Homo sapiens: one gene and its partner. The protein of the gene in region 1 purifies or fractionates together with the protein of each later gene. This does not show direct contact. Each region holds a gene or a part of one and is shown in the gene's direction. Other genes may lie near its edges. The genes, in order: ZNF7 and SOX13.

Region 1 (3,357 bases):
TCCTCATCACAATCCATGCTCTCCATTCAGAACTCAGACCCTGTACTGTTTCCTCGCCAGCTCGGATGCTGGAGCCCCTGACCCCGCAGCCCAATCCGTGGTAGCTTCCCACCCTTCTGGTCTTGCTTTGTCTCCTTTGCCTCTGCATGGACTGTGCCCCACACCAGTGCCTGTAGGATGGACCTCTCTGCTCACAGAACCCAGCCCTGCCCCAGCAATGAACATTCATTGCTATCGAATGAGTGAACAAGGTAAAAAGTATGAAACCACTTTTGAGAACTGTCAAAGGCTCTGCCTTCTCTTGCACGTTTCCACCTGGGGCCTCACAGTGCTCAGTGCAACTATCCTGGGAGCCTTGAGCCCTGGCCCCCGCATTTGTAGTCTTATCATTTCTCTGAGCACAGGGCCTAAGGAACGTCTTTGTTCCTGTTTATTTCAGATTCTACGATTAGGACTGAAAATGAGCAGGCCTGTGAGGACATGGACATCCTAAAATCAGAATCCTATGGGACAGTGGTCAGAATCTCCCCACAGGACTTTCCTCAGAATCCTGGCTTTGGAGACGTTTCTGATTCTGAGGTCTGGTTAGACAGTCATCTGGGCAGTCCCGGGCTGAAAGTGACAGGCTTTACCTTCCAAAATAACTGTTTGAATGAGGAGACTGTGGTTCCCAAGACCTTCACCAAGGACGCACCCCAGGGATGTAAGGAGCTGGGAAGCAGCGGCCTGGATTGTCAGCCTCTTGAAAGTCAGGGAGAGAGTGCGGAAGGGATGTCCCAGAGATGCGAGGAGTGTGGCAAAGGCATCAGAGCCACTTCAGATATCGCTCTGCATTGGGAAATTAATACACAGAAAATTAGCAGATGTCAAGAATGCCAAAAAAAGTTATCTGACTGCTTGCAGGGGAAACATACAAATAACTGCCATGGAGAGAAGCCGTACGAATGTGCAGAGTGTGGGAAAGTCTTCAGGCTCTGCTCGCAGCTTAATCAGCATCAGAGAATCCACACGGGAGAGAAACCCTTTAAATGCACTGAGTGTGGAAAAGCCTTCCGCCTGAGCTCAAAACTTATTCAGCATCAAAGAATCCACACTGGGGAGAAGCCCTACAGATGTGAGGAATGTGGAAAAGCTTTTGGTCAGAGCTCAAGCCTCATCCACCATCAGAGAATCCACACAGGAGAGAGGCCCTATGGTTGTCGTGAGTGTGGGAAAGCCTTCAGCCAGCAGTCGCAGCTGGTTAGACACCAGAGAACTCACACTGGGGAGAGGCCCTACCCTTGCAAGGAGTGTGGGAAGGCCTTCAGCCAGAGCTCCACCCTAGCCCAGCATCAAAGGATGCATACTGGGGAGAAAGCTCAAATTCTAAAAGCCTCAGACAGTCCAAGCCTTGTTGCACATCAGAGAATTCACGCTGTAGAGAAACCATTTAAGTGTGATGAGTGTGGGAAAGCTTTTAGGTGGATCTCTCGCCTGAGTCAGCATCAGCTGATTCACACTGGAGAGAAGCCTTATAAATGCAACAAGTGTACAAAAGCCTTTGGTTGTAGTTCACGGCTTATTCGCCATCAGAGAACTCACACTGGAGAAAAACCATTTAAATGTGATGAGTGTGGCAAAGGCTTTGTTCAGGGCTCACACCTTATTCAGCATCAGCGAATCCACACTGGAGAGAAACCCTATGTGTGTAATGACTGTGGAAAAGCCTTCAGTCAGAGTTCCAGCCTTATTTACCATCAGAGAATCCATAAAGGAGAGAAGCCCTACGAATGCCTCCAATGCGGAAAAGCCTTCAGTATGAGCACACAGCTTACAATACATCAAAGGGTTCACACTGGAGAGAGGCCCTATAAATGTAATGAATGTGGGAAAGCCTTCAGTCAAAACTCAACCCTTTTCCAACACCAGATAATTCATGCAGGGGTGAAGCCCTATGAGTGCAGTGAGTGTGGAAAAGCCTTCAGCCGGAGCTCATATCTTATTGAACACCAGAGAATACACACTAGGGCCCAGTGGTTTTACGAATATGGGAATGCCCTGGAAGGGTCCACCTTTGTGAGCCGTAAAAAGGTTAATACTATAAAGAAACTGCATCAGTGTGAAGACTGTGAGAAGATATTTAGGTGGCGTTCACACCTAATTATACACCAGAGAATTCACACCGGGGAGAAGCCTTATAAATGCAATGACTGTGGCAAAGCTTTTAATCGTAGCTCAAGGCTTACCCAGCATCAAAAAATTCACATGGGATAGACCACTTACATATAAATGTGTATATATGTGAATAAACCTATAGCCTTAACTTACTTATTTTATATGGAATCGTTTATACTGACAAACATGTAGAATGTTGGTAAAGGTTCAGAATTGCTCTCAAGAATATCCAACTTCAGGCCGAGTGTGGTGGCTTATGCCTGTCATCCCAGCACTTTGGGAGGCCAAGGCGGGCACATCACGAGGTCAGGAGGTTGAGACCATCCTGGGTAACAGGTGAAACCCCATCTCTACTAAAAATACAAAAATTTAGCTGGGCGTGGTGGCAGGCACCTGTGGTCCCAGCTGCTCGGGAGGCTGAGGCAGGAGAATGGCATCAGCCCAGGAGGCGGAGCTTGCAGTGAGCTGAGATCGCGCCACTGCACTCCAGCCTGGGTGACAGAGTGAGACTCCCTCTCAAAAAAAAAAAAAAAAAAAAAAATCCAACTTCATACAAAATGTATGTTTATTTCCTGAAATGTTTGACCTTAACCTGTTCAATAAAGCCTGTGTCCCTCAAAATCAGGGTGCAGTCTGCAGTTTTGAGTTGACAGGTCCCTGTGAATGAGGAAGCAGCACAAGGAGGGCTCTACGAGCGCTGCTAGACTGAGTAGGTTAAAATAATTTACCTAAACTCTTTTCCCTTAAGTATCAGTGGCTCACACTGGCTTCAACAATACGGAAATGCATTAGCTCATGTTGGAGGAGGTCCAGGAGTGCCTAGAATTCCAACTTCAAATTAGGTCCTTGTCTTAGAACTTAACCCAGCCACCCAGGACCAGAGGGCCCAGCCCTATCCCCTTCCTCAGAGAGGCAGGCTGGGCTAGCAGGTACACGCCATCATTACTGGTGTGGTTGGCATTTATGGAGCACATACCAGTGCCAGGCACAGAAGCAAGGTGTCACAGCAAGGTTCTGAGGTCACACTTGTGTCCCAGGGGCTTGCTGTGTGACCTAGGACATCATTGCCCTCCCTGAAACTCAGAGCCTTATTTGTGTATCTGAAAACATGCACTGTGAGAGGGTACTGAGAGGAAACAATGTAGAGAAACATGCCTTACTGGGCCTGTCAGAGAACGAGCACTCAAGCAAATGCAAGTACCA
Region 2 (4,022 bases), on another chromosome or scaffold:
GTCATGATCCCAGCCTTCCCCCCAAGCCACCAACCTCTGCCTGTCACCCCTGACTCCCAGCTGGCCTTACCCATTCAGCCCATTCCCTGCAAACCAGGTGAGTGTGAGAAGGGAGGTTCCACCACTGCGGCCAGCCTGTCCTGAGGTCAGGGAAAGCGCCCTGGAGCCACTCTCATCCATTAATTTGCTATGTGGACTTTCTGGGCCTCAGTTTTGGATCTGTCTGGTAGAAGAATCATCCTCTTTTTCTGAATCTTGCTGAATTTCTCTGAACTTCACTGGGAGAATGAAAAACCATAAAGCCCTTTCCAGATGTAAAATGATGTAGCAATCCAGGTCTAGTCTCTCCAACTCTAGTACATTTACTGTGTCAGAGTATTAATATCTGGAATATTGCCAGGTGTGGTGGCTCACGCATGTAATCCCAGCACTTTGGGAGGCCGAAGTGGGTGGATCACTTGAGGTCAGGAATTCGAGGCCAGCCTGGCCAACATGGTGAAACCCCATCTTTACTAAAAATACAAAAATTAGCTGGGTGTGGTGGTGCATGCCTGTAGTCCCAGCTACTCAGAAGACTGAGGCAGGAGAATCGCTTGAACCTGGGAGGTGGAGGTTGCAGTGAGCTGAGATCATGCCACTGCACTCCAGCCTAGGTGACAGAGCGAGACTCCATTTCAAAAAAAAAAAAAAAATCTGGAATATTAACTGGGTTTTACAAATCTCCCAAATTCTTTTTTGTTTGTTTGTGTTTTGTGTTTTGAGACAGAGTCTTACTTGTTCTGTCACCTGGGCTCTGGAGTGCAGTGGTGTAATCTCAGCTCACTGCTGCAGCCTCCACCTCCCATGTTCAAGCGATTCTCCTGCCTCAGCCTCCTGAGTAGCTGGAATTGCAGGTGCACACCACCATACCTGGCTAATTTTTGTATTTTTAGTAGAGACGAAATTTCGCCGCGTTGCCCAGGCTGGTCTCCTGACCGCAAGTGATCCTCCCGCCTCAGCCTCCCAAAATGCTGGGATTACAGGCGTGAGCCAACATCTCCCAAATTCTAACAGCCACGATTCCTACCTTCACACTCTTGTCCCTGCCTACACCATGTCACTCTGGCCTTCTACCCCATCACTGAAATTCAGCAGAATGGCCATGTGTCAGACAAGGGTGTGGGACCTGACGGTACAGGGCAGTTGGGGAGGGAGCATGGAGTCTGGGATTTATTTTGTAGGCTGTGGGGTGCATGTGAACATTTGAGAAGTGAGTGTGTCGTTCTGGCTTTGAGGGGTGGGGAGTGGAGGGGAGACTGGCCAGAAGCAGGACCTGCTAGGTGATTCTAGCAGCAGGGGATGATACCTGAACTAGGGCAGTGACAGAGAGTTATGGGGACAGGGCAGAGATGCTGCCCATAATTACCCCAGGAGTGTGGACAGCTTTAAAGGCAACACGTGCTAGATCATCCTCCCTGTTCCACAGGCGAGAAAGAGAGAGAGAAGAGGAAATTCCCTGAGGCCTATAGGCCATGGGCTTGGGTAGACTGCTCAGCCCCACTGGCTCTCTGCTCCTGCCTGGTTTGTGCCGGGCACTGTAGGGTGGTGTGAAGGGGAAACACAAAGGACTGAGAAAGCCAGGCCCCATCTTCATCCATTCAGGGGCTGTAGAAAGACACCATGGACCGTGTGGCTCATAAACAACAGATGTTATTCCTCACATACAGTTCTGGGGGCTGTGAATTCCAAGATCATAAAGCCAGCATATTTGGTGTCTGGTGAGGGCTGACTTTCTGGTTCACAGATGGCGTCTCTCACTGTGTCCTCAGGTGGTGAAAGGGGTAAACGGGCTCCCTCAGGCCTCTAATCTCATTCCTGAGGGCTCCACCCTCATGACCCAGGCACCTCCCAAAGGTCCCACCTCCTAAGTCTATCACATTGGGAATTAGATTTCAACATAGGAATTGGGGTGGGGGAGGCACATTCAGACCATAGCATTCTGCCCCAGACTCTCCCCAGTTCATTTTCTTGTCATATGCAAAATATATTCATTCCATCCCAATAGGCTCCCAAATCTTAACTTGTTCCAGCATCAGTTCAAAAGTTTCAAGTCCAGAGCCTCATCTAATCTCACCTAGGCCAGGCACAGTGGTCATGTCTGTGATCCCAGCACTTTGGGAGGCTAAGGCAGGAGGATTGCTTGAGGCCAGGAGTTCAAGACCAGCCTGGGCAACAAAGTGAGACCCTGTCTCTACAAAAAAAAAAAAAAAGCCTGGCATGGTGGCCTGTGCCTGTGGTCCCAGCTACTTGGGAGGCTGAGGCAGGAGGATTGCGTGAGCCCAGGAGGACAAGGCTGTAGTGAGCTGTGTCTGTACCACTGCACACCCTCCTGGGAGACAAAGCGAGACATACAGAGTGAGGCCCTGTCGCAAAACAGACAAAAATAATAATAAATCTCACCTAAATCAGTTATAGGTAAGACTCAAGGTATAATTCATTCTGAAGCAAATTCCCCTTCAGAACTGAGGCATGAATTTCTGAGGTCTGTAAGCTGTCCAGTTTATGGCACTTTGTTTCAACAGCCTGAGTAGACTAAGACAGGCCCAATGTGGAAGTTTCCAGTTAGCTGGGGGAATGGGGAGTGGAGAAGGTTGAAGGTGGAGGACAGGGCAATTCCAAACCATTGCAACTCCCCATGAGTGTGGAGGAGAGCTGTGGAGGCAAGGGGACAGTGATCTGGTCGGGGATAGGACCCCCAACTGCTTTCTGGGCAGGTAAGGCAGTAAATAAGCTGTGGGAGCCCGGGACTGGCATGGCTGCCTCCCACTTTGTTTGCTCCAGAAATTAAGCAAGCAAGGTCCCTTGCAAAAGCTGACTGTAAACAGTGGCCCTCCCCAGCTCACAAGCCTTACATGGTGCTCTGTACCCACAGCATGGGCTCCGTACTCCTGACCTCGGCCTTCATGGGCCTCGGGGCCAACCTGGCCCCCATGGCCTGCCTCATTCCCCACAGCTCACCCTCACACACCCCACCACTCCATCTCTACTTGCCCAAATCCTGCCCATCCTGCAGGCACTAGCGCACACCTCGGCTCCCACAGGGAGCCTGCTCTAGTTACCCCAGCTGGAGCAGAGTTTGCTGGTGCTCTGTCTGTGTGGCCCTCATCACCACCTGCCATGCACTTCATGATTTCTACATGTGGCCTATCTCTCCACCTGGATGCTGGGCCTGGGAGTGAGGTAGGGTAGGCAGGAGTGCCATGTCGAGAAGAAGGAAAGGCTGTGGAGTCTAGAGGCCCTGGGTTCAAATCCTGATGCTGCCATTTCATAGCTCTGTGGACAACCCATTTTTCTTCTTATTTTTATTTTTTTAGTTTTGAAAATTTTAAATTCTTTTTTTTTTTTTTTGAAACAGAGTCTCGCTCTGTCCCCCAGGTTGGAGTGCAGTGGTGCAATCTCGACTCACTGCAACCTCCGCCTCCTGGGTTCAAGCGATTCTCCTGCCTCAGCCTCCTGAATATCTGGGATTACAGGCGCGTGCCACCGCACCCGGCTAATTTTTGTATTTTTAGTGGAGATGGGGTTTCACCATGTTGGTCATGCTGGTCAGGGTGGTCTCGAACTCCTGACCTTGTGATCCACCCACCTTGTCCTCCCAAAGTGCTGGGATTACAGGCGTAAGCCACCACGCCTGGCTTCAATTCTTAATAATAGAGATGGGGGTCTTGCTATGTTGACCAGATTGGTCTTGAACTCTTGGCCTCAAGCAGTCTTTCTGCCTCAGCCTCCCAAAGTGCTAGGCATGAGCCACCACACCCAGCCCCATTTGACTTCTAAGGTTTTCATTTCTTTTTCTGTAAAATGGGATGATGATGTATTCAGCCCCTGTTATATATCACATACCATGTATTATTGTCAGATGATACATATGAGACGTTCTACACAACAGGCAGCCGCTTTTGTGCCCTGTGCCCAGTAGGTACAAAATAAAAGTAGCTGTTGGATGAATAGGTGTTTTACCCTCTCTCATTGTGCCATTGGAT

What was found.
Region 2: the proteins of ZNF7 (region 1) and SOX13 purify together in Homo sapiens (affinity purification with mass spectrometry; one large-scale study listed by BioGRID and IntAct). This does not show direct contact.

Annotation. Positions count from the first base shown.
Region 1 is NC_000008.11:144,840,916-144,844,272, forward strand, and holds the end of ZNF7 (zinc finger protein 7), read left to right. Parts: exon of another isoform or gene 1-439; coding exon 440-2,253; 3' UTR 2,254-2,857; downstream 2,858-3,357.
Region 2 is NC_000001.11:204,117,611-204,121,632, forward strand, and holds part of SOX13 (transcription factor SOX-13), read left to right. Parts: coding exon 1-97; intron 98-4,022. UniProt on the Homo sapiens protein: Transcription factor that binds to DNA at the consensus sequence 5'-AACAAT-3'. Binds to the proximal promoter region of the myelin protein MPZ gene, and may thereby be involved in the differentiation of oligodendroglia in the developing spinal tube.